3 linked regions of the Homo sapiens genome follow. The protein of the gene in region 3 purifies or fractionates together with the protein of the main gene of each other region. This does not show direct contact. Each region holds a gene or a part of one and is shown on either strand. Other genes may lie near its edges. The genes, in order: PECR, FKBP14 and POMGNT2.

Region 1 (7,915 bases), on a different chromosome or scaffold from region 3:
CTCAGCTACTCCGGAGGCTGAGGTAGGAGAATCGCTTGAACCCGGGAGGCAGAGGTTGCAGTGAGCCAAGATCACACCACCGCACTCCAGCCGGGGCAACAGAGTGAGACTCTGCCTCAGAAAAAAAAAAAGATTCTTACAAATGTGATATTACAGAGTGTTAGCTTCAATCAACCATTAGCTCTGTACTCTTGGTCATTGTAGGAGGGAAAACAGGTTTTTAAGAACATGCTCATACTCTGGAACTCGTGCTTAGAATAACTGCTTTTAAGCCACTCTTGAAAAAAATTATCCAGATAATTCTTTTTTTGTTTTTGTTTTTTTTTTTTGAGATGGAGTTTCACTCTTGTTGCCTTGGCTGGAGTGCAATGGCGTGATCTCAGCTCACCACAACTTCTGCCTCCTGGGTTTAAGCGATTCTCCTGCCTCAGCCTTCTGAGAAGCTGGGATTACAGGCATGCACAACCATGCCCAGTTAATTTTGTATTTTTTAGTAGAGAAGGGGTTTCTCCATGTTGGTCAGGCTGGTCTCGAACTCCCAACCTCAGGTGATCCGCCCGCCTTGGCCTCCCAAAGTGCTGGGATTACAGGCGTGAGCCACTGCTCCCGGCCCAGATAATTCTTAAATTCATCCACCCAACTTTCCCATCTCCACTGCTTCCCCTCTGGTCTAGGAGGCCACTGTCTCTTAACTGTGGTTCTAAAAAAAATGCTCCTATCTTCCAGCTTCCACTCTTGCTGCCTTCCAATCAATTCCTCACTCAGCAGTAAGCAACATCTTTTACTTAATTTTTTTAATTTTTTGAGACAGAGTCTCACTCTGTCACCCAGGCTGGACTGCAGTGGCACAATCTCAGCTTCCTGCAACCCCCACCTCCCCCACCTGATTCTCCTACCGAGTAGATGAGATTACAGGCGTGTGCCACCACACCCGGCTAATTTTTGTATTTTTAGTAGAGATGGGGTTTCACCTCCCAAAGTGCTGGGATTCCAGGCATGAGCCACCCAGCCAGAAACATCTTTTTAAAACATAAAGAAAATCAGATGGTCAGGCGTGGCAGCGCGCACCTGTCGTCTCAGCTTCTCGGAAGGCTGAGGCAGGAGAATTGTTTGAACCTGGGAGGCAGAGGCTGCAGTGAGCCGAGATCGCTGCCACTGCACTCCAGCCTGGGATACAGAGCCAGACTCCATGTCAAATAAATAAATAAAAATAAAAAAGAAAATCAGGCTGTTTTCTGCTTAAAATCCTCCTGTAACTTCCTACTGTTATACATGTGGAAGTCCATGTGGCCTAAGGACCTCCCCATCCTGCCACCCCATCTGTACCACCATAGTAGGGGTACTATGCTCCAATCACACTGGCTGTGTATTTCTTCCTCAAGAGCACCAAATGCTTCCAAATGCTTGAGGTCTTCTTAACTGCTGTCTATCTTGCTGCTCTGCTGCTCCACCCCGCCTCTTCCTGTGCCCGTTTTTGTTTTTTTGAGTCCTTGTTCAAATGTTTCCTCCTCTGAGCCCTTCTTGACACCCGAACTAAAAACTTGACTCCCTGCTCTGCCTCTCATTATTCTTTATCACAACAGCTTGTTTCCTGTGTAAGGCTTACCAACATTTGTCATTATTTATTTTTCTTTTACTTATTTATTGCATAGCTCTTCTACTAGACTTCAAGCCCTATGAAGTGGTACCATAGAAGTAGGCCAACAAATAGATGCTCGATAAATCTTTTTAAGTGACTGGGTGAAGTGGTAGCAACTCAGGAGTAGCTTATTTTTTGTGAAAGCCTGAGACTAAGGAGAAGTTTAATAAAAAGACATCAATAAGCTCCTTTATATGCCTTGTTATGGCACAATTGCTAGGTAGTTTTGCTTCAAGGTAGGGGCAGGACCAGATGCTTCACTGACATTCTCTCAGCACTGAGATTCTGGGAGTCTAAATGTCGAGAATCCCACAAGCCCCTGTCAGTCTGAGCTAGCAGCTGCTTTGCAGAGGGGAGAAAATAAAGTTACCAGGCAGATGGGGTGGGGGAGGGGTGGGAAGCTGAAGGCAGTCATTGCTAATGGGGTATGACAGAGCTGTGGGGAGAGGTTCGGGGGTGTGGGAGGACCTTGGCCACAGGAATGCCTTTTTCCCCAGGACAAAGAGGGCAGTGACGCAGAGCACAGGGAAGAGCAGCATTTGATTCAACCAAAGGAGTGGTCAGTGCAGCATGGCGTGGTTGCCTTCGGAAGAGATGCCTCAACCAGAGGCAGAACTAAAATTTCAAAACAAAGAGCTTCCAAGCAGCAGATCTATTGCTCTGCTTCCAGGCCTTTTGGCCTGGAACTTAGCGGATTAGTGGACTTTCAAACCCTGACAGAGGTCAGAGGCAGAGGCAAAGAGATCATGCCTCCTAATTTTAAACAAAAGATCGCTTGAAGAGACCCCAAAGCTCTCTTAATTGCAGGTTCTGCCTGGATCATGAAAAATCGCCTTCTGACTGTTCATCCTGCAACTTCCTTGCAGCTGAGGAATGGCACCTTGTCATCCTCAGTAGGCATAACCGGTTTGCAGGCCCCAGTCCCTGTTTCACTGGAAGACATCAGAATCCCACTCTCAGTCCGCTCAGCAGCCACACGGAAGCTGCAGCACAGCCAGCTTCCCACTGACCCACCCTGGCACACCTCTAAGAATCTATAGGTCCAGACCAGGGCATAAATCATGTTAAGTTATATCTTCAATAAAGTTATCATTTAAAAGAATTTAAAGTGTCCCCACCCACAAGAAAGAAAGTCTGGACTTCTCTTGAATAAGATACCCCTCAGAACTGAATCAATATTTCTTTTCCTTAAAAAAAAACACCTTGTCATTGGGATCAAACCAAGAGGAGTTATATGTTTCTGCAACAACACTTTGAGCTTTCCTGTTTGAATTTACTTTGTTTTAAAGGAGGTGATGGCGTTGTAATTTTAAAAATTTGGTCCTAACTACAGAATTGACTTAAGTAGTAGAGTTAAGTGATTCCTGGATAAACTATCTAGCAAATGGTAACCAGGAGATTTATTCCTTTCTTTAACGAGTGTAGATTTGAATCTGTCAGCAACAAAGATAGAGGGAGAAGTGATTCTAAAAAGAGATCAGAGAAGGACAAGAGGATGGAGCAACAGGGAAGTGTAGCTGTCCAACAAGAACTGCAGCCTCGCTGGTGGGTGGGACCTGGTGGAGGAAGTGATGGTCTGATTCCTCTGTCAACCAGACCCATTTCCAATTGGCTTTGTGAATCCTAGGTGGTAGGTCCAACAAAAGGATGATGGCATTTATTTGCCTTTATATTATTTTAATACCTGTCCGGGGAAAATGCAACACTCTGACAACAGCCTTAGAAATAGCATCCCATCTGGATTGTTAAGACCACAGCAACTGGCACATTCGACCAAGTTCTTAGGGTGAAGTCTCAGTAGGCCAGTCCAGGTGTAATCTCACTCTGGTGGGTTCAGAGCGGGAAGCAAGATGAAAAATAAGGAGCAGATCTGAATAATAAATCACTGTTACTGGGCACCATAACACAGACGAGAAATTTTCCCCATCCTCAGCGGGCTCACCCTCCTGCACAAGGAATGAACTACAGGACATGATCTCAAACACCTACAGATGCATCTTGCAGGAAGCGTGCACCCTTCAAGGAAAGATCCTCTTCTGGACTCGCTATGCAGCTCAGCTGAAATGGATCAGGTCTCAAACCTGGTAAAGATGATCTTTCCCCTTGATTCTTGGGTGGGGAGTGGGAGGTGAGACGGAGGTGGGCCTGAGTTTATTTTTTCAAATCGTTTATTCTCTTGGTTCTGTGGAAAACTGCAACCGCATCTCCTCTTCCCCTTCACTCTCTTTCCCGGGCTCCCTCCCGAAGGATGAAAGGATCTGAAAGCCGCATTTCTCCCCCTCAGCTAAGCCTGCCCTTTCTCCCCTTCCCAGCCAGCGGCACACAGCACCTGGAGCCACAGCATCGCCGACGTCCGACCCCGGCAGGCGGGCGCAGCGAGGGCGCCGAGCAGCAGCCTTTCTTTTTCCAGCTGCACTGGAGATTTAATTTTAATTAATCGTGAGAGCTTCAGCCCTGAGGATTGAATTTTTGAAATAGAGCACACCCTGCTTGTTTCTTTCTTCTTCTTTTTTTTTTTTTGCATTTCCCTTCCACCCTCCCCAATGGCATCGAAATTTAAAGAAACGAACGAGCAGTCTCACCCACACCTGCCCAGGGACCGACGCTGGCGGAGGTTGCGGACAGCCGGCGGGGAGCGGTTCTGCTCCGGGAGGATGCGGCTTTGCCGCGGCCGGCGGGCGGGGCGGGGCCGGGCCGGGGAGGGTGCGGGGTTCTGGTGGTCACGTGGGCTCGAGCACCGCCCTGTCCGCCCGCCCGCCTCGAATGTCCCTGAGACCCAGAAGGGCCTGCGCTCAGCTGCTCTGGCACCCCGCTGCAGGGATGGCCTCCTGGGCTAAGGGCAGGAGCTACCTGGCGCCTGGTTTGCTGCAGGGCCAAGTGGCCATCGTCACCGGCGGGGCCACGGGCATCGGAAAAGCCATCGTGAAGGAGCTCCTGGAGCTGGGTACGTGAGCGGGCCGCTGGTGCAGAGAGGTGGCTGTGGTGACCTGGGGTAACCTGGAGACGGGAGCCAGGAGCTCTCGGCGGGGCTGAGGGAGTGTGGAGCTGCAGAGCAAAGACGGGGCAGGTGTGGGCGAAATTACGACCACCAGGGAGACAGAAGAGAGCAGCTCTTCCTAAGGAATTGTGGAGCCACTCGTTAAAAACTGAAGAGACCACTCAGGCCAAAGAGACTGTGCCCCAGGTAGGCAGTAAGAAGAGCAGTGAAACATGCTGTGCAATTAGTTTTATATTCAGATTTAAAATTAATCCATTCTATATGCTTAATGTGAGTGATTAGGAAACGTGGGAAGACTTCATTTAACTGGAAAAAGTTGTGAACATAGTGAGTCTCTCATAGTATCTTCTCACATCTCTTAACCACAGCAAGGAAATATGCTGAATATTTACCTTAACTTGGGTGAAGGAAGGCCTTTGTAAACACATAAGTGAGGGAATAAACCACAAAGGAGAACATAAATCAATCTACCTGTATGAAAGTGTAAATCCTCATTGAATTAAAAAAATATATAAAGTTTAAAGGCATATGAAGAAAAATATTTGCAACATAAGATAAATTGTTTGTTGGTTTTGAGATAGGGTCTCACTCTGTTGCCTACGCTGGTCTCGAACACCTGGGTTCAAGGGATCCTCCTGCCTTGCCTCTGAGTCCTAAAGTTTTGGGATTACAGGCTGAGCCACTAGATTCGGCCAACAGCCTTATACATAAAGAGCTCTTACAAATAAAGAAAAAATCCAACACACTGATAGAAAAATTAGACTAATGGTATGGACTAAGCGTTCCAAAAGAAGAACTACAGACAGGCAAGAAACATATGAAAAAATAATCAACTTTATTGGTAATAAAATATGAAACAGTAAGATTTAACTTTTCTAACAAAATTTTGAAATGTTGGGAAAAATTAAAGTGTTGATGCAGGAATGAGAAGGCAGGAATGTAAATTATTACAAACTTTCTGGAAGGCAATTTGGAAAAAAAGATCCAAAAACCTTCACAATGTTTATGCTCTATGACAGTAATTCCTTTTTCAGGAATTTAAGGAAACGGAGTCAAGCAAAGATTTTCATGCAAGGATGTAGTCTTGAGTAGTGAAAAAATGGAAATTACCTAAAAATCCAATATAAGGAAAATAGTTAAATCAATAACAATGAAATATAATGCTTCCGTTTAAATATCTTGCTATTGGTCCTGGCGCAGTGGCTCACGCCTGTAATTCCAGCACTTTGAGAGGCCGAGGCGGGCAGATAACCTGAGGTCAGGAGTTTGAGACCAGCCTGGCCAACATGGTGAAACTCCATTTCTACTAAAAATACAAACCAGGCATGGTGGCGTACACCTGTAGTCCCAGCTACTTGGGAGGTTGAGGCGCAAGAATCGCTTGAACCTGGGAGGCAGAGGTTGCAATGAGCTGACGTCAAGCCACTGCACTCCAGCCTGGGCAACAGAGCGAGATTCCATCTCAATAAATAAATAAATATCTTGCTATTGAAGACTTACTTGGAGAAATGCATACCATATTATTGGGAAAAGTAGAATTCTAAACCTAATAGCATTCCAATTTTACTTTTTTTTTTTTTTTGAGATGGAGTTTCGCTCTTGTTGCCCAGGCTGGAGTGCAGTGGCGCCATCTTGGCTCACTGCAACCTCCGCCTCCTGGGTTCAAGCGATTCTCCTGCCTCAGCCTCCCGAGTAGTTGGGATTACAGGCACGCACTACCTTGCTAGGCTAATTTTGTATTTTTAGTAGAGATGGGGTTTCTATATGTTGGTCAGGCTGGTCTCCAACTCCCGACCTCAGGTGATCCGCCCGCCTCGGCCTCCCAAAGTACTGGGATTACAGGCGTAAGCCACCGTGCCCGGCCCAATTTTACTTTTAATAAAATATATACATGCAGGGCCGGGCACGGTGGCTCATGCCTGTAATCCCAGCACTTTGGGAGGCCGAGGCGGGCAGAGCACAAGGTCAAGAGTTCGAGACTAGCCTGGGAAAACATGGTGAAACCTCGTCTCTACTAAGAATACAAAAATTAGCCAGGCATGGTGGCGTGTGCCTGTAATCCCAGCTACTCAGGAGGCTGAGGCAGGAGAATGGCGTGAACCCGGGAGGCAGAGGTTTCAGTGAGCCAAGATCGTGCCGCTGCACTCCAGCCTGGGCGACAGAGCAAGACTCAGTATCAAAAAAAAAAAAAAGTATTACATATGCAAAAATGGACTGGAAGGAAGTTTATAAGATTTTTAGCCATTTTTCTGAAAATAATGTTAATTATGAGTAATTAAAATTGTCTTCGTCTTTTAAATATTTTTTAATGAACATCTAAATTATCTTTGGTTACGACTGTGTTTCCAACATCTGGCACAGTATGAACTAAAAAAAAAAAATCTATGTTTTTAGTTAAAAAAAAAAAAAAAAGCAAAAACATTTCCTAGTAAGGCCATGATGTAACCTCATCACCATTACTGCCCAGTTTATTCTCAACACCAAGCTCTATCCTCTTTCAGGAATATCTGTAAGAAAATCAGAATCAGTTATCAATTCATGCATAGGTCAGATACTAGGCTTCTCAGCAGATTCGTAGGACCCTAGTCCACTTTGAAGGATTTTTAATAGATTTTTATGTATTTGAACTTTCATCCTGTTGCATAAGTGTGCTATTTGAACTTTCATCCTGTTGCATAAGTGTGCTATTTGAACTTTCATCCTGTTGCATAAATATGCATTGGCCAAAAACTACACCCCTGGAATAAGGTGATAGACTATATTTTTCTTACCACAAACTAAAACATTAGGACATTGGTCTTGTAATCTTTTGGAAGACATGAATCTGTCTGAGATTCTGATGAAAGTGGTGGCGTGTCTTTTGAGAAAAAGACATCATATACTTAAAAATATATATACACAATTATTTTGTTGTATTGGAAATGGATTTCCTTCAGTGAAAGAATATTAAAAATCTTTTTCTTTTTTTTTTTTTTTGAGATGGAGTTTCGCTCTGTCGCCCAGGCTGGAGTACAGTGGCGCAATCTCGGCTCACTGCAACCTCCACCTCCCAGGTTCAAGCAATTCTCTGCCTCAGCCTCCTGAGCAGTATTTTTAATAGAGACGGGGTTTTACCACGTTGGCCAGGCTGGTCTTGAACTCCTGACCTTATGATCCATCCCCCTTGACCTCCCAAAGTGCTGTGAGCCACCGGGCCTGGCCATAAAAATCATTTTTATAATTACTTTTTCCTCTTTATTTTTTTATGCCAGAATCAATGGCTATTTCCACGACATTGT
Region 2 (7,747 bases), on a different chromosome or scaffold from region 3:
TTTTCATTTCTAGCCTTCCCAAATTTTCTACAGTTGGCATTTTGTTACTTTGATCATTGGGCAAAATTACAGGAAAAAATGGCATTACCCAGATTTAGTAACCATGGTACTCATGAAGCGTAGTACAGTGACTTCTTTTTCTCACCTACAAGATATCCTTGAATAGAATATTTTCCTTATTGCACTGAAAGGGAGCTAGGTAGGGATCAGGCATTACTCAGCCCTTAAGCCTCCCTGTATGTAGTTCGGCAGGTTGGTTTTCCTAGGCTAGACTCTCTTCAACTCATGAGCCAGGACATTCTATTTCCCTCGTCCCCAGTTGATAGGGTTCCGCTATGGCCCCACCCAATTCTCATCTTAAATTGTAGCTACCATAATCCCCACATGTTGTGGAAGGGACCTGGTGGGAGGTAATCGAATCATGAGGGCAGGTTTTTCCCATGCTGTTCTCCTTGTGATAGTAAATAAGTCTCACGAGATCTGATGGTTTTATAAAAGGCAGCTCCTCTGCACACTCATTCTTGCCTGCTACCATGTAAGACGTGCCTTTGCTCCTCCTTTGCCTTCCGCCATGATTGTGAGACCTCCCCAGCCATGTGGAACCGCGAGTCCATTAAACCTCCTTTTCTTTATAAGTTACCCAGTCTTGAATATTTCTTCATAGCAGTATGAAAATGGACTAACACACCAGTCCTTGAGGGGCTACTCTTCCAGACTTTCCTATATAGCCCCACTGTAGACCCCTGAGGAGGAAACTGGGCTAGGGTCTGAGTGGGGATTTAGGGATGAAAAGCAGCCTTTTCTACCCGTCAGAGCCATCAGCAGGCCATAGCTAAGGCAAGTTTGTAGGCAGGATATAAGACACTGTGCTTCTCACTCTTCATATCTGTGTGCATATGGACCCACATATGTTGGCAGTAAATTCTCCTTAGCCTTTCAATCTCCTTCCCAAACTCAGCCATTTTTCCATTATTTTCTCCTTGTTCTGCAACCTAGTGGCCTTCCTGGGACAACATAACTTTGTGATTAAGACCTTGAACTTTGGAGTTAGGTTTAAAGACTGGAACTTAACCTGTGTTTCCTCATCTGTGCAATGGGGTAGTAATGGTACTTATATTATAGACTTATTGTAAGGGTTAAGAGGCAAAAAATAAAATAAAATTTAGAATAATTCCTGGTATACAACAAATGTTCAAATGGTTGTTGTTTTTATTATTTCCTCTGTCTTTCTTAAGCCCAGTCAAGTATGTGAAATTTGCATCAAGAAAGATGGGCAGTGAATTGAATTCCTATAAACTTGACTTGGAGGTGTGTGTGTATGTGTGCAAATACAGAATTGCTGTATTTATAAATTTTTAAACTAATAAACTTAACCACTTACTGGTGGGAAAATGCACTAAAGAAAATTTTTTAGAGTTAATAAGGAGTTCTAATGTGTTTTATTTCTATCATAGTCACAAACATAACAATGGTCAGCCCATTTGGTTTACCCTGGGCATCCTGGAGGCTCTCAAAGGTTGGGACCAGGGCTTGAAAGGAATGTGTGTAGGAGAGAAGAGAAAGCTCATCATTCCTCCTGCTCTGGGCTATGGAAAAGAAGGAAAAGGTAATAGTATTTCTGTATTTTTCTTACTATAGCACTAGAGTTGTTCTCTGGATTAGGAGACAGAAGTTAGAGTCACTATAACTTTTTTTTTTCCCCTGGAAGTTAATAGGGGGTATGTATTCCTTTAGCAACTGTATTATGTCTTGAGTATCAATTGAAATGGCCAGTTTAAGGCCGTAATGTCTAAATGGGCAACTATGCTAACAATAAAAAAAGAACATTGAGGTCTATTAATACTGTTCACAAATATGGTGGGTTGTTTTAATTGTGATAAAATATACATAAAATTTTTCATTTGAACCATTTTTAAGTACACAGTTCAGTGGCATTAAATACATTCATGTTATTGTGGAACCATCACCACTATCCATCTTCAGAATGTTCTCATCTTCCCAAACTGAAACTCACCAATTTACTTTAACAATGCAGAGAGAAAGATCCATTAACGTAAGTGTTTGGATGAGTTGAACATGTGAAATATAGATTATTAAAGTATTGAATGCATTTTAGATGTGGGTTATATATGGGTTGTACTTCATGAATATTAAGTCTCCCACAGCAAACTGGGAGTTCTTTTCATTCCCGTTTTTAAATTTATTTATAAAGTTTTTAACAATGTATTTAAAAAAAATCATAGAGTGACATGAAATGAATTTAATTCTCCCTGTGTCACAAAGCAGAAGCAAGCTGGCTAGCTGGTCCGGACAGCTTTTGTACTAGTTTTTCAGGGCAGACACATATCCTGCTGTTCAAGTGAGAACCCCTGCAACTTTCCAAAGAGCTGCTTTGTGATATATATCAAGAGGTCTGGGCCAGGCATGGTGGCTCACACCTGTAATCCCAGCACTTTGGGAGGCCAAGGAGGGTGGATCACTTGAGGTCAGGAGTTTGAGACCGACGTGGCCAACATGGTGAAACCCTGTCTCTACTAAAAATACAAAATTAGCTGAACGTAGTGGAGTGCACCTATAATCCCAGTTACTTAGGAGGCTGAGGCAGGAGAATTGCTTGAACATGTGAGGCAGAGGTTGCAATGAGCCAAGAACGTGCCACTATACTCCAGCCTGGGGGACAGAGCCAAACTCCATCTCAAAAAAAAAAAAAGAGGTCTGAAGATGTCTATATGCATTTATTCTATAATTCCTTCAAACCTAAGGGAATAATTAGATATCAGGAAAAAAATTTGTGAACAGGGATGTCCATAATTGCATTGTTTCTAAGCAAAAAATTGGAACTGTCGTAAGTGGTATACTGGTAAGAATTTAGCTAAATAAAATATGGCCCAGTTATTTAAAATGGCATTTCCAAAGAGTTTAAAAATTATATCTGAAATGCATGAGATACAGTATTATATATAAAAGTAGAAAATAAACCTATAGTATATATGATAGTAAATATAGGAAAAGGTACATATACATAGAAAGTTAATCATAAGGAAATAAATAAGAATGTTAAAAATGGACTGTGATACTGGGAATCATATTTATTTCTGGTTTTATCATCCAAGTATGTGCTCTACAATGAGCATGTATTACTTACATAATGAAGAAAAAAAAGTTTAAGTAGTCATCAGAACCAGACAGACAACTACTCTGATATAGTATAAATATAGACTTCATAGCATCCTGAAGTCTAAGGTTAACCACTGACAAAAGTGAGGAGTCAGGATTCACAGCCCATTTCCTGAGAAGGAAAATAGATGCCATATGGCAAGCATTATATATTCCAAAATATACAAATCTATACAAATCTTGTTCATAGGATAAGATTAACTAACCAAATTCAATTCTTCTTTTAGTCATAATCCTCTTTAGAGAAGAAAACCAAGTATCTAGAAAATTTTTTCTGATGCTGAGAATGTTTTCATTTTATCTTTATTGTCTCACCTTTAATATTTACATACAGTAGTTCCCCTTTACCTGTGGTTTCACTTTCTACCGTTTTAGTTACCTGTGGTCAACTGCAGTCTGAAAATATTAAGGTATTTTGAGAATGAGAGACAGATTGCATTCATATAACTTTTATTATGATATGTTGTTGTAATTGTTCTATTTTATTATTTTTAATCTGTTACTATGACTATTTTATAAATTAAACTTTATCACAGATATGCATGTATAGGAAAAAGCATTGTATGTATGGGGTTTGGTACTATCCATGGTTTCAGGCATCTAATGGGATTCTTGGGACATATCCCAGTGGGGACTACTGTACGTTGTATTAGTCCATTACTCTTTCTCATACTATATTTAACTCAAGTTTACTTCACAATAAGTAGAGATCTAAATTTGAGTCATTTCCTTCAAACTGAATGCCATGAAACTAATTTTTCTAATCTGTATTTAACACTAATTTTGTAGTCTTTTAGTACATGCTTGCATGCCTCTTTTGGAAAGATACCAGTTTTATCAACAACCTAGCGCATGTCACATCTCTGTCTAGATCTGAAATGGTAAGCTTCAGCACACTTTATAAGTCTTCTCTTTGGAATTTATGAATGTTCTTTCATGGAAATATGTGGGATGGGGGGAGGATGACTAAGAAATATTTAACATGTTTACACAGACCTGTATGTTAAATATAGTTATAAGGAAACAAGTTTGAGAAAAACAATTGTCCATACTCCACAGATGGGTGTGTTTGTTTGTTTGTTTGTTTGTTTCAGGTTCCTGGGATTTTAACAAAGCTCTTTTCACTTTTAAAGATTTTTAATTTCCCTTCTCAGAAATTCATTTTAATTTCTCCCCTCCCATGAAATGTCTTCAACATATATATAATGTTCTATATCAGAGGTAGTGTTTCCTAACTTTCTGAAATTGTTAAACCTTCCTGCATTATTTTTAAAGCCTGTGAGAAAATTATACCTCAATAACATGTATTGAGAGTTTACTATTTGTCAAGTTTAATGCTAAGTATTTTGCATGGATTTTTCTCCCTTTATCCTCCCAACAGACTCCTGAGGAGGAAATTTATTATCTGCATTTTATAGATGAGGAAATTGAGGCTTAGAGATGGGCAAATGTAAACTTCAGCCTCAGACAGTGTGACACCAGAGCTTACTCAATTATATGGGTAGAAATGCCTTCTAGTGGTAGAAATGGCAATACTGTATGTATTTCTAGGTCAGGACTTTCTGACCAAAAAGTTAGTTTATTACTTTTAATATACTTAACTCCGAATTATCTAAAACCCTTCAAGTCCTTCTTGACATATAATATGTAATATATTAATTATATTAGAAATGTAATACCTAAGCCATTAGGTACATCTCTATGTATGTATATGCATTGTGTGTATGTGTATTTACATTTTAATTGCTAAGCCAAAGATAGAATGCTTTTGCTCTGCTAGTGTATATTATTTCTTCTTTTACTCTATTCTATTCGAGTAAAATATAATATACATAATTTTCATCATATATGACAATCTTAGGAAGGCTCTTTAATTCAGTTAAAAAAAATACTTTGTCCATTACCATAAATTTTCTATTATTAAAACTTTTGGCTCTTTTAAAACTTTCTGCCTTCTTTCCTCACGTCAGGTAAAATTCCCCCAGAAAGTACACTGATATTTAATATTGATCTCCTGGAGATTCGAAATGGACCAAGATCCCATGAATCATTCCAAGAAATGGATCTTAATGATGACTGGAAACTCTCTAAAGATGAGGTGACCTTTCCTTCTTCCTACTCCTCTTTCTACTTTTCTTTGGTTGTTTGGGGTTTTGTTTTGTTTTGTTTTTGTAACTCACTTTTTAAATGAATATGTGTATATTTCAAATCTACTTTTATTTAGGTAACATTTATTTATAAGTTTTCTTAAAATACTGATGCTTTGAAAGTGGACTTTTTCATAGTGAATCACTGTTTTGGAGAGAAATATATTAAGACTTAAAAAGCACCATTCAATCTTTTGCTTTTTTCTTCCCAATGCTTAGGGTTCACTGTATCTTATGCTTACCCTTGGGTCTTTGAAAGAACAATTTTGCCAAGACAGTTTCCATCTGGAGTTACTGTATAAGAAGCTAGCTGTCCTGAGAAATATCTCATGTGGACAGTTTCTGTTAAAACTGTAGACTGGCTGTTAAATACATCTTGTAGTGTTTTCCTGGCAATTAACAGCAAGCAACTTACATGCTCTGTTTTGTTCAGGTTGCCCCAGAGAAAAGAGACCCCAGCCTGGGTTTTACACAGCAGGGCTCCAGCCCCATCAAAATCTGAGCCTTTGGGTAAAGAGAAAGGAAGAAGAGGCTTCTCCTTATAATTCGGCCATTGCTACACATACCTGTCTTAGTCTGGCTGCTGCGGGGAAAGAAGTGGAGGGAGATATTTATTCCTGTTTTTTATCTACTCACACTCCATTCTGTCCTGACTGGTCAGATATCAAGTCCCTTTCTATGCTTTGATCAAATTCATTCTAATGGCCAGGAAATGATTAAGTCTTGAATAAGCCAAATTGTTACGAACCAGGGGTTCATGATCCACAGCCACTAAATTTATAACACCTCATAGTATTACCAGTCACATGCCTTTTTCTTCCATCCAAGATAAATTTTAATTCCCTTTCATTAAATAATTTTGAATATATAACACAGTCACATGGTTCAAAACAAAAATCTATTTATTTATTTATTTATTTATTTATTTATTTATTTATTTATTTATTTCCTGAGAGGGAGTCTTGCTCTGTTGCCCAGCCTGGAGTGCAGTGGCAAAATCTCGGCTCACTGCAACCTCTGCCTCCTGGGTTCAAGCAATTCTGCCTCAGCCTCCCAAGTAGCTGCACCATCATGCCTGGCTGATTTTTGTATTTTTAGTAGAGATGGGGTTTCACCATATTGGCCAGGCTGGTCTCAAACTCCTGACCTCGTGATCTGCCCACCTCGGCCTTCCAAAGTGCTGGGATTACAGACGTGAACCACTGTGCCCAGCAGAAAGATATTTATTTAAAAGTCTTAGCTGGGTGAGGTGGCTCACACTTGTAATCCTACCACTTTGGAAGGCTGAGGCAGGAAGATTGCTTGAGGCTGAGACTTCAAGACCAACCTGGCCAACATAGGAAGACTTTATCTCTATTATTTACTGTTTTTTTTTTTTTTAGACGGAATCTCACTCTGTTGCCAGGCTGGATTGCAGTGGTGCGATCTCAGCTCACTGCAGCCTCTGTGTCCCGGGTTCAAGCGATTCTCCTGCCTCGGCCTGCCAGGTAGCTGGGACTACAGGTGCACGCCACCATACCCAGCTAATTGTCGTATTTTTAATAGAGACAGGGTTTCACCATGTTGGCCAGGATGGTTTCAAGCTCCTGACTTTGTGATCCGCCTGCCTTGGCCTCCCAAAGTGCTGGGATTACAGGTGTGAGCTACCGCATCCGGCCTATTATTTACATATTTTTAAAAGTCTTTCTCCTACCTACATCCTCTTCTATTCTATTATCCCCACATCCAGTTTTATTAATTACTTTTTTCTTTCTTTCTGTTTTTTTTTTTGTAGAGATGAGGTCTCGCTATGTACAAGCATGCACCATTGCACCCGGCTTAGTTTTATTAGTTTCTAATATATCCTTTCAGTGTTTCTTTCTGCAAATCCAAATACATAGTCTTATTTCCCCCTTTCTTACACAAAAAGAAGCAAACTATACATGCTGTTTTGTCGTTTTGCTTTATTCACACAATATATCCTAGAAATACATTCTACATTAATCCATAGAGTTTAATGGATTAATGGATCTCTCCCCCACCCCTTTTTTTAACAACTGCATTAAATCACTTTAACTTAAAAATAAATATATACTATATGTGTACTTCTTGAAAGCTGGGGGAGAGAGGATTTGAAATTGCTGGTCTAAACAGAAGGAAGAGAGGTGATATAATTAAAACTGAAAATATAGGCTGATTTTCATTGTGGTGAATCTTGTGGGAAATTGAAAACAATATTTATATTTTTAAATATCTGAATGAAATGAAAATGGAGTCCGGGCATGGTGGCTCACACCTGTAATCCCAGCACTTTGGGAGGCCAAGGCAGGCAAATCTTCTGAGGTCAGGAGTTCGAGGCCAGCCTGGCCAACTTGGTGAAACCCTGTCTCTACTAAAAATACAAAAATTAGCCAGGCATGGTGGCAGGTGCCTGTAATCCCAGC
Region 3 (7,747 bases):
GCAAGGGGCAGAGAAGAGAAAGAAACACCTCAGACATTCAGAGAACTCAATCAGGGAGGAGCGAGCCCAAATAAGGGCACGCACATCCCACCCTACTTTGCAGCCCAGTCCCCTCCTGGACCCATGACAATGACCAGAGAATGCCACTGGCTGACCAGCTGAAAGTCATCAGGCTATGGGGCAGGGAGAAGGGAAGATGAGTGAATGCTGGGTGGATGTGATCACAGTGCTCAGTGGTGAAACTCTTGAAGGAGACAAAAGGGATTCAAAGGGGACCCAACAACCTTGATCCTTATTTGTTTGCTTTCCTTTAGAAAAGCGGAGGTAATCAAACTAGGAAAAGCTGCCTCTTCCTATCACTCCTCTTACTCGTGCCCTAAGCGGAGTTTTGGCCCCTCCACTGCTCTGGGACCAGCAGCTGATTCCCGTGCTGTACCTCCCATCCCATCCTGCTACCAAGGATCCAATCGGCACCTGAAACTGATTCCCAGATTACCAACAACTATTAAATATGAACCCACTCTTACCTTGAAAAACACACTCAAAATCACCAGCCTCTAACACTTTATGTTCCAGGCAGTATACTGAACACTGTAGGTATATTTTCTCATTCAATCTTCAAACCAACATTAAGAGGCTAACACTATTTCTATTACTCCATTTTATAGATTGGGACACAGAGGCTGGGAGAAGCTAAGTAAATGTGTCCAAGTCCCTCAGCATGTACAGAATGGAGGCAGGATCTGAACATGGATTCTAAGCACTGTCTTATGTTAATAGCCCAGGCACCATTTGGACCTCACCTTCTTGGCATTCCAGGGCCACACAGACCAGGGTACTTCAACACCACCATGTTTATCTGCCTCTGCCTCCTCTATATTGGGCACCAAATTTAGAGACCAACTGGAGTGGGGAACAAAGGGCTTAGTGGCTCAGCCAGGACAAAGCATGATAAAACAAAAATTTTTTCAAAAGAAAGAGAAAAAAGAAATCAACAAGAGATTAAAAACATGCCTAGAAAATCCCTTTAGAAACTGAGGCAGACAGGAGGAAGCTACCAATTCACTCCCCCAAACCACTTTACTAAGCTCCCAAGAGCAGTTAAATGTTATCAGATCCCCAGACTTAGTGAATCCTCCTTTCTAGGATCCCAGCTGTTCCGAGCATCAGAGGATAATGTCAAAAATGCTGTTGCAACTGCAGACCCCAGTAACAGCTGGGCAGGTGGGGTGGGGCCACTTGCCTTGGGGAGCTCACCACGTGAGGGTGGTCATTGGTGCTGGGTGCAGGCTGTACTTCTGGGGGCCCTGGCCAGCCCCAGACACGGGCACAGAAAAGCCCATAAGGGCTTTAAGGTTTGATAAGGAGTAAAAGCTCCAGGAATTCTGGGCCCAGAGTAGGAGGTGCACACTCACATGCCTGCTAGGGCCGGAGCCAATGGAGAAAGTAAAGCTGAGGGTGGGCTGTGTGACCTGGAGACAGAACACCTAATGCCAGCTGATGAGAGAATGGCGGGAAAGCAGCCTGGTGGTACCTATCTGTATCAGTCTGCTTGGGCTCCCATAACAGAATACCAGACTGAGTGCCTTAAATGACAGAATTTTCTCACAGATCTGTCAGGGTTGGTTTCTGGTGAGGCTTCTCTTCCTGGCTTGTAGATGGCCTCTTCTCTGTGTGGTGGGGAGGGAGGAGAGGGGCAGGTGAGCAAGGGGGAAAGGGAGGGAGAAAGGAAGCCGGGAGAGGGAGGTGGGGAGAGAGAGAAACACTCTGATCTCTTTTCCTCTTCTTATAAGGACACCAGTCCTATCAGATTAGGGCCCCACCCTTATGACCTCATTTAAGCTTCATTATTAGGATGATCTATCTCTAAACACAATCACAGGGGGGTTAGATCTTCAACATATAAATGGGGGGAACATGATTCAGTCCATAGCAATACTCTTCTGATTTTCCCAGAGAAGCAAAAATCTATTTAAAATGTGAAATGTCCTCATTTGTAACTTCTGGCAATTATTCAAATTGAGTGAAGACAACGTGCACCAAGGCCTGGGGCTGCTGGCCTCATGGTTGCCAGTTAAAAACGGATGCTCATTTGCAAGCTCTGGTCTAAAGCAAATCCCCTGTCCTGCTGGCCTCACCATGGCCTGTGCCCGGGTTCCCAGTTTTGTGACTGCCAGAACCAGCAGCTCACCGGTCACTCCTCCACAAGAAGGGTTACAGAGGTGGAGGGACCAGACAGCCAGCACCTGCCAGACCCAGGCTGCAGAAGATCAGGCAGGGCCCAGGCCAGGAGGGGGTCAGCAACGGTGCAGAAGGTTTTATATTTTACTTTCACAGCAATTTGACTTTTAAGGATTGTTCACACTTCCAATTGAAAATTATAGAAATCTTATTTTGTCACTGAAAAGTGTTTTTGTCCTAAATGCAGCCTGAAGTACTAGTGCTAGATTGTGGAAGCTTTCAGTCCTGTATTGATTTGTTGTCTTACATGTTGTAAATTAGTAAGGAGTAAACATGTTTCACTAACTCAAGCTTATCCTCAGAATGATCTCTTTCCCCCTCCTTTTTTTTTGGTTATCTGAAGTAGTATATGGAACTGGTATTAATAACATAATGCTTACATTTGCTCCTAAATTAAATATTAACCTAATGCTATTGATAAATTCGGCATTTATAGATCAGGTTTTCTGACCAAGGTATTTATCCTTTGGCAAAATCTTGGCAGTCTGAGTGGTTCTTGTAAAACTTAACACATTTAATTATCAAGGCATATTTAACATTTAGTTAAGGGCTCACTTTCTTAGATTAAAACTTTGACATGGGTAGTATCTTCTTGCTTTAGAATAAAGAGCAAAGCAAAGTCAAAGCTGGAGACATTAATCCACCATCAATAGCTGATGACTGTGACTATATTGCCTTATCAATAGAAAAGGAACCCCTTCAAAGCAGGAAAAACTCCAACAGAATTCAAGTCTGTACTACTTTGGTGAGAAGGGTGATGTCAGTCTTTGCTGAGGATAAACCAAGGCTTGAGTGTGGGGCAGGACGTTCGGCCTTCCACCAGCTCATATGCAACCCTCTCACCGGTTTTCAGCCTCCAAATAACGCAGAAACCTTTGCTTGCCACACAGCCTGCCGTGTCATCTGGCTTTTGCTTAGCACAAATGGGTCACCTGGAAGTGACATGTGCCTGTATTGGTCCTCTCTGGCATCACTGTGTACCAGTGTGGTCATAAACGGGGATGAAACAGGGAACAGAACGGTGGGAACCTCTGTTGTGTGGCTCACAAAGGTAATGGAGAACACGCCTACACCAGGTTTTCTAGGTGGAACTACAAAATCAAATGAAAACAATTCTTACAGGGAATGCTCAGACCCCAGTGTGTACACAAATCCAGATGGACCCTCAGGCCCAATTTGAGAGGGTTGAACTGATCAAGAGAGCCAAAAACACCCAGTATAGGAAGCATAAAACATTCACAAAGAAACACGAGGAAGTGTGCACAACAAGAGATCATCCAGGGAAGCTGGCTGGAGGGTGGGTGAGTTTTGAGCAAGTTTTTGGAGGTGTTTTGGTGGTGATGGAGGATAAGATGAGCATCTCTGTTATGTGTCTACATGTCCCAATTACTCATGACTGCTACAAATCTGTCTGCAGCAAGCATCACTGTCTAGTTCTCACAAATGTCCAGCAAACCATGAGGCCTCCAAGCCATGGGCAGTGATGGCCAGGCCCAAAGCCATGTGCAGTTCAGTGGGCACTGCATACCCAGACAGGTAAAGGTCGGGGAGCCCAGGCTGTGGGGCAGGCACAGAAGTGCCAGGGAAGGCAGGAGATAAAGCTGCCAGGAGACCTGGGTTTCAACAGTAGAGCCCTATGGGCTCAGGTGACTACTTGCAAAGCCTTCTGCAGGGTGACGCTTTATGGCAGCCAGGTCCCTGCCAGATACCCAGGGACCCTGAGATCCCACATCAGCAAGCAGAAGGAGGTGACAGAATTAGGCTGAGTTTTCCTTTGGTCTCATTACCACCATGTCACCCTCAACTCCTCCCTTTCCTAATAATAATGATATTATCATAGCTAAGATCTACTGGCCAATCACTAGGTGCCAGATTCTTCACTTTGCAATGATAATCTTTATTTTATAGATGGTAAAAATCAAAGCTCAGAAAGGTTAGAAAGCCAAGTTTACAGAGGAAGCAATGATAAGACTAACCCAGGTAGGCTGGCTACAGGGTCTGCGATCTCCTTCTTTTTATCTGGAAATAATTTTAAATTTACAAAAAAAGTTGCATGTATAGGACAAAGAACTCTCCTACACTCTTACCCAGATTCACCAACTGCTAATTTGACATCTTTGTTTAATCATTCTCTCTATATGCAGTCAGCCCTCTATATCTGCAGGTTCTGCATATGTGACTTCAACCAACTGTGGATCAAAAATATTCAAAAAAAACTTAAAAATACAAAAAAAGTATCAATTTAAAAACAATATAGTATAACAACTATTTACATAGCATTTACATTGTATTAGGTATTATAAAGAATTTAGAGATGACTTAAAGTATACAGGAGGATTGTGTAGGTTATATGCAAATAATGACACCATTTTATAACAGGCACTTGAGCATCCTTGGATTCTGGTATCTGTGGGGGATCCCGGAACAAGTCTCCCTGAGGAGGGCAACTGTATACAAATTCTCTCTCTTTTCTGAATCATTTGTAAATAAGTTGAAGAAATCAGGCCCCTTTAGCACTCAATACTTTAGCATGTATTTTCTAAGAATGAAAACATTCTCTCACACCACAAAAATTAACGAAATGAATATTGATACTATAATGACAATGATATTATTATTAACATATGGTTTCTATTTTCTGGTCCAGAATCCAGTCCAGGATGAAGCATGGTATCCAGTTATCACCGCTCTCTAGTCCCTTCCGATCTGGGGTAGCTTCTCAGTCTATCTTCAACTTATGATCTTGACAATTTTTAAGAGTCAGGGCCAGCTATTTTCTAGTATATTCCTCAATGTCTGATGTTTTCTCATGATTAGGTTCAGGTTATGCATTTTCGTGAGGAATTAGAGTCTGTACAATTAGTCATTAATACAACCCCACCCTATGTGAGTCTTTCTGGGACACTCACCTTGGGGCAGCCAGGATGAGGAAGGACTGAGAACCCCTATACTGTGTAGGATGCTAGAAGGAGTAGGGCCACTTTACTGGAGAAAAGAAGCCCCTGCACCCATGGTGTCTTCAAATACCTGAGTTGCTGCACAAGAGTGAGGCTGCTCCTGAGGAGTGGATGCAACCCCTTCTACCTGACTGGACACACATGCATGATGGTGACACGTGCAACCCAAGCCCTAGGCACAAGTGTGGACTATGGGCACATATGATTCCCATTCTGTCCTGCCCAGCACAGCTGTGCCAGCTGCTCAGGGACCTAGAGTAAGAACTGCAAAAAGAAGTCATGGGGAGGTGGAGCTCAGCATGGTCAGTTGGAGGAAGACTTTCCTAAAGACTAGAGCTGTTTGAGCATGGAGGAATCAGCTACTTTGTAGGGCAGTGAGCCCCTGCCTGGAAGTGGTCTAGCAAAAAACAAAAACAACCCATGTGGACTACTCCACAGCGGGGATAGGGCTGGCCATGGTGTCTTCCAAAGCAGGACTCAGTGGATCCGTGGACCTGTTGTAGCAGTATCACCTGGGATCTGAGAAATGCAGAATCCTGGGCCCCACTTCAGACCTGCAGAACCAGAATCTCTCTGAGATGAGGACCCAGGAACTTGTGTCTTAATAAAGCTTCCAGGTGATTCTTGCGTGTGCACAATACTGAGGGGAACTGCTCTGAGGTTCTTCTAACATTTCACAATTTTGCGATACTCAGCAAGGCATTTCTATCTAGCCCAGGTTAAACAACTAATTCAATTGAGAATAACCCTCCCCATAAGTATCAGTAAAGGCTAAATAAATTCTGTTCCTACCTTTTGCTAAGATGATGCATAAGCCTAAGCTCTGGGACAATCTGAGAAGTCCGCCAGACTCTAAGCTCCCTTTTGAGACAAGTTGCCCCAACCCATTCCTTCCCACACAAAGTGCACCATTTGTGGTGTGGGAGTGGCAAGAAACGAGTCCAGGTCTCTTGGCCACAGCTAAATGGACTAAGGATGGAGTCTGGGTCTAAAGCAGCCACCAGTAGAGGACATAGGGAGATGGCCATCCCTGCAGGCCAGCAGAGAGGAGGTAGGTCCCCCGAGAAAGAAGCCCCTGAACAGAGCAAATTTGGACAGCATCTCCAGTTCCTTACAATGGCTACTGTGTGACTCTCTTGGAAGCTCTGGGACCCAGCACAACTGTGGCAACTCCAGATGCCACTCCAGGATGTGCCATGATTCCTGCCACAAACCTCCACTGTCAAAGGACCCCGGGGTGTGTTTCATCACTGGGTGTGGCAATACAGCAGACCAGGTCCCCAGTCCCTTCCTAAGGCTTAGCTCAGGGCTGAGGAGCAACTACACAGCAAAGAAGGGGCCTTCTCTTAGCCTTTTCAGAATGGAGAAAACAGATAAATTTGTAGCATAAGCTTGTACCAATGGCAGTCACCACTGGCAGAGTGAAAGATCTGATTCTCTTAGAGGTGCTGGAGTATGTACCAGTGCAGACATGGGAAGCCAGAGAAAACAAAAGGACTTGTCCAGGTTAACTAAGAAAAAAAGGATGTTGGCCTCTGGGTAGGGGATAAAGATGAATGGTCTCACCATCTTACTTTACTGAGCACCTACTATGCGAGAGGCGCTGTCTTAAGCCTTTTTCCTGACCTATTTCATTTAAGCCTCACCCTCCAATGCAGTACCAATATTATCCCCATTTTCTTTTAACATGAGAAAACCAAGTTTTAGTGGAGTTAAGTACCTTGCTTAAGGTCTTAAAGCTCAAGAAGGGCCACCAGGATTTGAACCTGCCTCTCACTAAGGTCTTGTTCTTAGTACCGTGCTCATCTGTCATCAGACTTGGAGGAACACTCAATGGCAGATAAGCAGAGTAGACTGTAGAGCAGTGAGTTTTTATTAGTCAAGGGCAGAGCAGGTGTGGTGGCCCTGGAAATGTAGAACCACAGGCCCTGGACTGTAACTTAGCAACCCAAGGCTTCTTGCTGTAATTCCTCCCCACCCAGCCAGGCAGAGGGTACCCAGCTGTGACAGGTGGCTTAGGGAGCTGTGGCCATTCTCTCACCCTAAGGAGAGTCTAAGTAACATACTAGTGTGATAATTTATCCCATGTGCCCTGGTACTGTGCTGAGAGGGTTAGGCCATCAATTTAGAATTACAAAACCACTGCCCTTTAGAGCTACAAGAACCCTTAGAAATGATTTCCTCCAACTCTTTATTTCATAAAAGAGGTCTGGAGAGGCAGTGTGAGCTCTCACAGGCAGCCAGGATTAAAATGGCAGAATGTTGGCTCTCAGTCCAGGGCTCCTTCTCCTCCCTTATCCACAGCTCAAGGGCTGCTCTCCCTCACAAAGCAAAGATAAGGCTCAGAGAATTATGCAGCCCCAGAACATTTCCCAGGAGCTAAACGAAGGCATTTCTTCTCATACACAAGCTTCCCAGATCCCACCCAGCCTGCACCCTCACCCAGCACTGCCCCCTCACCCAGCCCTGCTGTCCAGTGATGAGACCCTAAAGAGGCGACAGGGCTTGCCTGGGCTGCCTCTTCCTAACACCTCCTCCCCTGAACTCAC

What was found.
Region 1: the proteins of POMGNT2 (region 3) and PECR purify together in Homo sapiens (affinity purification with mass spectrometry; 2 studies listed by BioGRID and IntAct, with this or other methods). This does not show direct contact.
Region 2: the proteins of POMGNT2 (region 3) and FKBP14 purify together in Homo sapiens (affinity purification with mass spectrometry; 2 studies listed by BioGRID and IntAct, with this or other methods). This does not show direct contact.

What each region holds. Positions count from the first base shown.
Region 1 is NC_000002.12:216,078,286-216,086,200, reverse strand, and holds the start of PECR (peroxisomal trans-2-enoyl-CoA reductase), read left to right. Parts: upstream 1-4,391; 5' UTR 4,392-4,402; coding exon of another isoform or gene 4,403-4,459; coding exon 4,460-4,583; intron 4,584-7,915. UniProt on the Homo sapiens protein: Participates in chain elongation of fatty acids. Catalyzes the reduction of trans-2-enoyl-CoAs of varying chain lengths from 6:1 to 16:1, having maximum activity with 10:1 CoA. Has no 2,4-dienoyl-CoA reductase activity.
Region 2 is NC_000007.14:30,016,524-30,024,270, reverse strand, and holds part of FKBP14 (peptidyl-prolyl cis-trans isomerase FKBP14 precursor), read left to right. Parts: intron 1-1,454; coding exon 1,455-1,606; intron 1,607-3,966; exon of another isoform or gene 3,967-4,058; intron 4,059-5,147; coding exon 5,148-5,275; intron 5,276-7,747. UniProt on the Homo sapiens protein: PPIase which accelerates the folding of proteins during protein synthesis. Has a preference for substrates containing 4-hydroxylproline modifications, including type III collagen. May also target type VI and type X collagens.
Region 3 is NC_000003.12:43,095,794-43,103,540, forward strand, and holds part of POMGNT2 (protein O-linked-mannose beta-1,4-N-acetylglucosaminyltransferase 2), read right to left. Parts: intron 1-7,747. UniProt on the Homo sapiens protein: O-linked mannose beta-1,4-N-acetylglucosaminyltransferase that transfers UDP-N-acetyl-D-glucosamine to the 4-position of the mannose to generate N-acetyl-D-glucosamine-beta-1,4-O-D-mannosylprotein.